Linked DNA regions of Homo sapiens: region 2 is linked to region 1. Evidence: fine-mapped expression QTL. Tissue or cell type: subcutaneous fat. Region 1 holds a variant in brackets; the other region holds the start of a gene. All regions are shown on one strand. Distances are between the middles of the regions. Region 1 holds the start of IGSF23 (immunoglobulin superfamily member 23). Region 2 holds the start of CEACAM19 (CEA cell adhesion molecule 19).

Region 1 (4,389 bases):
CAATGGCACCATCTCAGCTAACCGCAACCTCCGCCTCCTGGGTTCAAGCAATTCTCCTGCCTCAGCCTCCCAAGTAGCTGGGATTACAGGCATGCACCACCACGCCCAGCTAATTTTCTGTTTTTAGTAGAGACGGGGTTTCTCCATGTTGGTCAGGCTGGTCTTGAATTCCTGACCTCAGATGATCCGCCCGCCTTGGCCTCCCAAAGTGCTGGGATTACAGCACTTTGTAATCCCAGCCACTGCACCCGTGAGCCACTGCACCCGGCTCAGAACTGAACTTTATTTATTTATTTTTGAGACGGAGTCGTGCTCTGTCGCCCAGGCTGGAGTGCAGTGGCACGATCTTGGCTCACTGCAAGCTCCGCCTCCCGGGTTCACGCCATTCTCCTGCCTCAGCCTTCTGAGTAGCTGGGACTACAGGCGCCCGCCACCAGGCCTGGCTAATTTTTTGTATTTTTAGTAGAGACGGGGTTTCACCGTGTTAGCCAGGATGGTCTCGATCTCCTGACCTCGTGATCCGCCTGCCTCGGCCTCCCAAAGTGCTGGGATTACAGGTGTGAGTCACCGCGCCCAACTCAGAAGTGAACTTTTAAGACCTGGATAAGGAAGCAATTCATTCACTATCTGAGAGGCAGATGTGTGTGGTCTCTGGAAAGTGTGGTCTGGGAAGCCAGCCCATCTGGCTTCAAATCTTCAGTCTGCCACTTCCAAGTGTGTGACCTGGAGAGGGCACATGACCTCTCTGAACCTCAGTTTCCCCTTCTGTGAAATAGGGATCGTACAGCTCTGATCTCAAAGAGTTGTGATAAGAGGTAAATGTTACTATAGGAAAGCACTTAGAACGGGCTGACAGGCTGGGCGCAGTGGCTCACGCCTGTAATCCTGGCACTTGGGGAGGCCGAGGCAGGAGGATCGCTTGAGCCCAGGAGTTCGAGACTAGCCTGGGCAACATAGTAAGACCTCATCTCTACTAAAAATAAAAAATTAGCTGGGTTTGGTGGCGCATACCTATGGTCCCAGCTACGCAGGACGCTGAGGCAGGAGAACAGCTTCAGCCCAGCAGGTTGAAGCTGCAATGAGTCATTATCGGGCCACTGCACTGTAGCCTGGACAACAGAGCAAGACCTTGTCTCAAAACAAAACAAAACAAAAAAACAAAAACCCCAAACAGGCTGGTATATAGATCTATTCAGTTACAGTGACCTTCTATTACGGCTGTTATTATTTTATGATTGTTATTATTTATATGTATTATTACTAAGTTGCGGATTGCAGGGGTGAGACAGGGCATTCTGGTGGAAGGGGGCTGGGCTGGGGTCCCAAATTCTGATCCTGCCCCTTGCCAGCCCTGTGATCTTGGGTAGGTGACCTGTTCTCCTCTTTGCGCCTCACTTCCCTTCTTCCTAAAAGAAGCCAATAGGGTCATCTCTTGTGGCGGAGTGGCCTTCAAGAGTTCTCATGAGTTGGGTGCCTGAGCTGCATGGGCCTCAAACTGACAGGGTCAAAGCTCTGAGTGGGGGTGACTTGGACTCGTAAGGAGACACTCTCCTCCTTGTCCCTGGCCCGTGGTGAAGCCGCTGTCTCCAACGCACCTGTTAAAAGCAGCTTCCTCCAGGTAGGGGTGTGGCTGGAGCTGACGTCCAGAGGACCCCTCATCTCGTGTTCTGTCCAGGGACTGTGCAGAGAAGGTCTCCTCATCACACATGGGGTCTTCATAGACCTGTACAGTCGCGTCTGCAGCCCCGGCCTCACCCTGCAGGACCCTGCTCACGATGACCATGCCCTACCCTGGCCACTTCCCCACATGACTTACACCAAGTTGGCTGGGAAGTCACCTCCAGCCGCATCCTTCTCTAGCATCGGGTCAGTGGTGGTGGTGGGTGGGGACCAGGCTGGGACAGGGTTCCTGGGAAGGGGGCTCTGAGGTTTTGCTCTCATTCTCTCACCGTACAATCCCCGCCGGGAGATGGAGGG[A/TA]GAAGCAGAATCGCCCGCTCCTATCACTCACATCAAAGGCAAGGAATGGCCAAAGGTCAACCTGGTAGGAGGTGACGGGGCTTTGGACTCTGAACCACAGCTTTTCTCCTCTGTAAAATGGAGGCGTTAATAATAGTGCCTGCCCCAGAGTCAGACAGGGCCGTGGACACAAGGTGCTTGGAGTAGTGCCTGGTCACGTAGTAGGCGCTCAACGAATGGCAGTCACTATGAAGTCAATGCTAATTATAATTTGGTGTCTAGGATGTCCTGGAGGCATGTTTAGAATCCCGTTATCAGGAGCTTGCTCAGACTATATCCTGAATTTTAGATTCTAGAAGGATAAGCTACACTAGCTACTTTTTCCTCACCCTTCTCACTCCCCAGGTCCATTCTTTCCTCCTCAAATTAATAATTATATTACTCAAACTAATAGCTGGTGTTTATTGAACACCTACTATATGCCGGACACAGCATTAACCTTGTAACAGGGTTGCCTAATTTGAATCCTCATAGCAACCTCGAGGGGTAGATATGAGCATCCCCATTTTCTCGTGGTGCACAGGGGCTAAGTAACTCACCTACCATCACACAACCGTTCACAGGGGCTTTCTGCCAGTTTTTGGAGGCACCAGCTCAGGGGCTTTGCATGAGCCGTTCCCTCTCCTTAGAACCTTACTCATGTAATCTCAAAGCTGACTGTATCTTATTATTTTGGCTTAATTCACACACATCACTCTATCAAAAAGGCCTTTCTTAATGCCTGCTGCAACTCAGTTCCCCACCTCTTTGCTAGCAAGCCACACTGTTTTGTTTTCTTTACATCATTTACCGCTATTTTAGATGATTTATTTATTTGTCCACTTGTATTATCTGTCTCTCCCTCCTTAGTCCCACCTCTCCGACTTGAATATCAGATCCAGGAGGGCAGGGATGTTGTCTGGCTTGTGGCTATGTCCCTAGTGACTAGAACAGTGCCTTGCATATAACAGGTGCTCAATACATGTTTTTGTTTTTGAGACGGGGTCTCACTCTGTCAGCCAGGCTGGAGTGCAGTGGCACGGTCATAGCTCACTGCAGCTTCAACCTTTTGGATTCAAGCAATAATCCTGCCTCAGTCTCCTGAGTAGCTGGGACTACAGTCTCACACTACCATTCCCAGCCAATTAAATTTTTTTTCTTTTTGTAGAAATAGAGTTTCACTATATTACCCAGGCTGGTCTCAAACTTCTGGGCTCAAGTGATCCTCCTGCCTCAGCCTCCCAGAGTGCTGGGATTACAGGCATGAACCACCTAGCCAGCCTACATGTTTTCTTTTTAGTGAATAAATGAATGAAGAGCAAGTGAGTGAAATGGGAGTGTTCAGACTTGAACTCAGATCTTTCTGACTTAGAAGCTCATGCTTTTCCCTCCCAGAGAGGTTCAGGTTCCACCCAGGGGCTAAGGTTCACCCATAAGTCTCTAATAATAGTCATTATCAGGTGACACAGTTATTTCTTTATTAGCATTTGCTAAAGTGCCTTTTTTATAGTTGGTCTGAAGGCCTCTGCTGGAGTGATTAGCTAGGTCAGGAGACCACTGTAGGAAAAAGTAAATATTTACGATGCAGTTAATAACCATTATGTTGTAAGGTTTCTGGGGTTTCTACCCAGCCAGTACTCTCTTGTATCCAGGTAACAGCACCTGGAGTTCTCTTTTGGAAACCAGCCTCCTCATGGCTCCAGGGAGGTGAGGGGCCCAGGACTGGCCAATCAGAGCACTTCATCCCCTGACAACAGTGATTTTTGGAGACCTGGGCGTGGCACTCAGAACAGGCCAAGGAGAAGCAATCTCTTACGGATTTTATTGGAACTCTGGGGAATAAAGCAATTTTTCTTTTTTCTGTTTTTAAATTTTTATTTATTTATTTAAAGACAGAGTCTTGCTGTGTTGCTCAAGCTGGAGTGCAGTGGTGTGATCTCTGCTCGCTGCAACTTCCACCTCTGGGGTTTAAGAGATTCTCATGCCTCAGCCTCCGGATTAGCTGGGATTACAGGCATGTGCCACCATGCCCAGCTAATTTTTTCATATTTTTAGTAGAGACAGTCTTTCACTATGTTGCCCAGGCTGGTCTTGAACTCCTGGCCTCCAGTGACCCACCTGCCTCGGCCTCCCAAAGTGGTGGGATTATAGGCGTGAGACACCGCACCCAGCCTAAAAGCATTTTTTCTTGCTTCCGGGTTTGCTGAGCTGAAGAGATCTCAGTGTGCAGCTGCTGGGGGCCATCTTTCTATCATGAGTAGAGAGATTGCCTAAAAACGAGGCCAACACATGTGAAAGCATAGTCAATGCACAGAAAGAGAGATTTCTAATGGCATCATTTAAACACCTAGATTCAGCTGTGCCTGATGTCCATACTGATCCTTCAGCTTGTGT
Region 2 (4,389 bases), 58 kb before region 1:
CTGCGTGCCTCCATTTTTCAATCTGTAAAATGGAGACAATAATGGCGCTGGCCTCATGGAGTTGTTTTAAGGTAAAAATGAGTAAATATAGAGTAATGGTTCTCAACCAGGGGTGATTCTTATCCCAGGGTGGAGACATTTGGTAATATCTGAAGACATTTTTGGTTGGCATGACTAGGAAGCTGCTACTGGTACCTAGTGAGTAGAGGCCGGGGTGCTGCTGAAATCTCTGCAATGCACAAACCCTCTACTAGTAAGAACTGGCCAATACAAAACATCAGTAGTGCTGAAGCTGAGAAACTATGCTTTAGGGAAAATGTTTAAGATGGTGCCTGGCTCTTAACGATCACCCAAGAAATGCCAGCTGTCATTATTGCCCACCACCCTTTCCCTCACACTTTGCCCCGAGTGGATTCATCAGTAAATACTCGCTTTATAAACATAAAGATTGAGGGATGCATTCCTCACAACCAGGCATACAGTAAGTGCTCGATAAAAATTTGGTTAATGTTAGTGCATGTGAAAGGTAAATGAGATGGTGCATTCTCCAGTGTCAGGCACAAGGCGGGCATTTCATAGATATTTTATTAGTTAATGCATGTGAGGGTTAAAGACTATCTCTGGGGATTGGTACACAGTAGATGCTCAATATGTGTCAAGTGAATAAATGAGAGGACCAAATGAAATGGTGTTTGCACAGCACCTGGTGCATGGTAGCTGCTCAGGGCTCATTAGCTTCCTCACCTCATCCCCAGACCCTAACACTTACCAGCTACCTGGACCTCAGTCTTGGCCTTCATAGTCCATTCAGAGTTGATGGTAATGGCTACTTGGTAGGTGCCACTGTCTGTAGGCTGGGCGCGGCGCAGCAGCATGGAACCATTGGGGAAGCCCACGATGTCTCGCTGTCCCATGGCACTGCCATCCCTCTGAGGCCGTTGTATCCCAGGGATGTAGGTAAATAGCCTCGTGCCTCCGTACGTCTCCTCCCCCAGGTACCAGTTGAAGTCCTGGAAGGTGTCTGGGACACCCTGGACTGACAGGAGAAGGTCCTGGTTCTTTTGAGGCTGCTCTGGAATCTTCTGGATGTAGAGAGCTGCCTGGGAGCCTTGGAGCATCCAGAGGACCAGGATTGAGGCTGTGGGAAGTTACAGGGAAGGGCTGAGATCAGGGGTGTTGCCAGGGACCATGGCATGCTCCTCTCTAGATACAGATCTTCAGCGGGGAGCAAGGACTCTGAGTGCTGCTCATTGGAAACAATGCTGGGATTGATTAGTGATGTCTGCCCTGGGTGCAGGAGTGGGAACACAGGCATGGTTACCACAGATTTGCCATCCTGTTGATCCAGAGGTTTTTCTACCTTGAGATGCTGTGTGGCCTGCTTCTAAACACATGGACTCTCTGAATTCATTCATTCATTCATTTATTCAACCAATACTTATAGGCATATGTAATATATAAGCTATAATACCAACTATATGTAATACATCTAAACTTCCTTCAATTTCTAGACACTGGAGATATAGCAGGGAACCAAACATACATAAATTCCTGCCTTCATGGTCCTAACATTATAGAAAATTCCATAGATAAAATGGCAATGAGGCTGTGATTCTGTTGCCCCTCCCCCATCTTATTCTAATTTCATCCTCTCAGGTAATCTTTCCCTACTTCTAAGAGGAAACTTCAATCTCTGGGCTGAGTCCCCATTTCTCCCCTTGGCCTTTAGGGTCTATTTCCTCCTTACCTGAGAGCAGGAGGCTCTTTGAGAAGCAGCCCTGGGTCCCCATGGGAATCTCCATCTTGGCGTCTTGTGGAAATGCCAAGGGGCCACGAGCTGGACACTAAGGGGGCCAGAGGGGTGGGCCCTGGCTGTCTGAAGTAGGCCAGCTCAGTGGGGATCCCAGGGGTGCCTTAGAGACACCGCTGGGGCTGGCCCAGCCCCAGCATGCCCTGTCCATGGGCTCTGGAGGCTCCACCTATACTCCCTGGGATGGGAGCACAGACAGAGGTTGAACCAGTTTTTCAGGGTGACTGGGGAACTTCCCAGGACTCCTCCCCTGACCCTCTTCAACCTCTTTTTCTCACTCAGCGTGACTACAACAGCAGTCACTGTAGCAATAGTCATAACAGCCTCTGTTTGAACAATTCCCCTGGGTTTGTTCAAACACACACTGCCTCATTCAGCAGCCACCATAAATAACTGTTCCCATTGCACAGATGTGGAAACAGAGGCCCAGGAAAAGAGGCAAGTCTGCCAATAGACAGAGGTGGGATTTCACCTGTGGCTGACTCACTTGAAGGCTCTGAGGCAGGCTGGGTGCGGTGGCTCACGCCTGTAATCCCAGCATTTTGGGAGGCCAAGGTGGGTAGATCACGAGGTGAGGAATTTGAGACCAGCCTGGCCAACATGGTGAAACCCTGTCTCTACTAAAAATACAAAAGTTAGTCAGGCGTGGTGGTGGGCACCTGTAATCCCAGCAACTGGAGAGGCTGAGGCAGGAGAATCACTTGAACTTGGGAGGCAGGGGTTGCAGGGAGCCGAGATCGCGCCACTGCATTCCAGCCTGGGTGACAGAGCGAGACTTCGTCTCAAAAAAAAAAAAAAGCTCTTAGCCTCGTGTTTTTCTTTTTTTTTCTTTTGAGATGGAGTTTCGCTCTTGTTGCCCAGGCTGGAGTGCAATGGCGCAATCTCAGTTCACCGCAACCTCTGCCACCTGGGTTCAAGCGATCCTCCCACCTCAGGGAGTAGCTGGAAATGCAGGCATGCGCCACCACGCCCGGCTACTTTTGTAGTTTTAGTAGAGACAGGGTTTCTCCATGTTGGTCAGGCTGGTCTTGAACTCCTGACCTCAGGTGATCTGCCCACCTTGGCCTCCCAAAGTGCTGGGATTACAGGTGTGAGCCACCGCGCTCAGCCTGTTTTTTTTTTTTTTTTTTTTTTTTTTTTTTCTTGAGACAGGGTCTTGCTCTGTCTTTCCATTCATGAACATTGGTTGTCTTACCATTTAAATATGTCACCTATAATTGCAAGAATATTTTGTAGTTTTTGGATTGGTTTCTTTTTTAGATGCTGTGTCACCCAGGCTGGAGTACAGTGGCACAATCTCAGTTTACTGCAACCTCCGCCTCCCAGGTTCAAGTGATTCTTCTGCCTCAGCCTTCTGAGTAGCTGGGATTACAGGCATGCGTCACCATGCCTGGCTAATTTTTGTATTTTTAGTAGAGATGGGGTTTTGCCATGTTGGCCAGGCTGGTCTCAAACTCCTGACCTCAGATGATCCTCCTGCCTCGGCCTCCCAAAGTACTAGGAGTATAGGCATGAGCCACTGCACCCAGCCCCAGAGTGTATGTTTTGTACTTTTTTGGATCATGTTTATTCCAAGTGTGTTATTCTTTTTTTTTTTTTTTAAGACAGGGTCTCGCTCTGTTGCCCAGGCTGGAGTATAGTTGCATGATCATTGCTCACTGCAGCCTCCAACTCCTGGGCTCAAGCAATCCTCCCGTCTCAGCCTCCTGAGTAGCTGGGACCACAGTTGTGTGCTACCATCCCTGGTCAATTTTTATATGTTTTGTAGAGATGGGATCTCACTATGTTGCCCCAGGCTGGTGTTGAACTCCTGGGCTCAAGTGATCCTCCCACCTTAGCCTCCCAAAGTACTGGGATTACAGATGTGACTCACCATACCTGGCTTAGCCTAGTTTTTAAAAAGCATCCTCCATTCATTCCAGCACACATTCCCAGTGCCCAGTTGTGTGTGCTGGGTGATGTTGGTGACACAGTGATGATTGAGACCACCTCTGCTCTGCCCTCTGTCCACAGTAGGGCACACAATCCTGTAGGGTTTGGGGGGGCAGACCCCTCTCACACAATTATGATCCAGAGTGATCAGGGCTGGGATGGAGGAGCCCAGGAGTCTGGGAGAGCCCAAGGAGACACACCTCATTCAACCTGACGGCTAGGGAGGGCTTCCTGGGGGAGGGGGCATCTGAGCTGAGACCTGGAGTAAGAGTAGAAATGAGGCAGATGATGGGGTGAGGCAGCATGAGGTGCACCAGGCAGCATAAATAGCAATGCAAGGATGTGGAGGCTGAGATAGTCATCAAGGTGTATTGAGGAGGTTGCAATATCTTGGGTGAGTGGAGCCAGGAAGGAGGGTGTGGGGCCTGTGTGTGTGAGGCTGGGAGGTAGGAGAGATCAAATGTGCTCTGTTGGTTGGATCAACAGAGCTTGGATAATGGAGGGTCTAGTGTTATGCTGTTTAATATCATAGCTATTAGTCATATGTGGCTATTTAAATATAAATTTAGGGAGGCACAGGTGACCCACACTTGTAATCCTACCCCTCTGAGAGGCTGAGGTGGGAAGATTGCTTGAGCCTAGGAATT

What was found. PIP is the estimated chance that this variant, and not a neighbour inherited with it, causes the effect.
Region 2: CEACAM19 starts here. The variant in region 1 is fine-mapped to the expression of CEACAM19 in subcutaneous fat (GTEx, PIP 0.92). The same link has a PIP of 0.9 or more in fibroblasts, thyroid, tibial artery, tibial nerve and whole blood.

What each region holds. Positions count from the first base shown.
Region 1 is chr19:44,611,198-44,615,586 of GRCh38, reverse strand. It overlaps IGSF23 (immunoglobulin superfamily member 23), which reads right to left and starts at 2,024. Exons shown (of 5, transcript NM_001205280.2): 1 at 1,817-2,024. The coding sequence starts at 1,941. RefSeq lists an enhancer at 111-612. The variant A/TA (reference allele first, on the strand shown) is at 1,978.
Region 2 is chr19:44,669,345-44,673,733 of GRCh38, reverse strand. It overlaps CEACAM19 (CEA cell adhesion molecule 19), which reads right to left and starts at 2,252. Exons shown (of 8, transcript NM_001127893.3): 1 at 1,748-2,252; 2 at 770-1,138. The coding sequence starts at 1,802.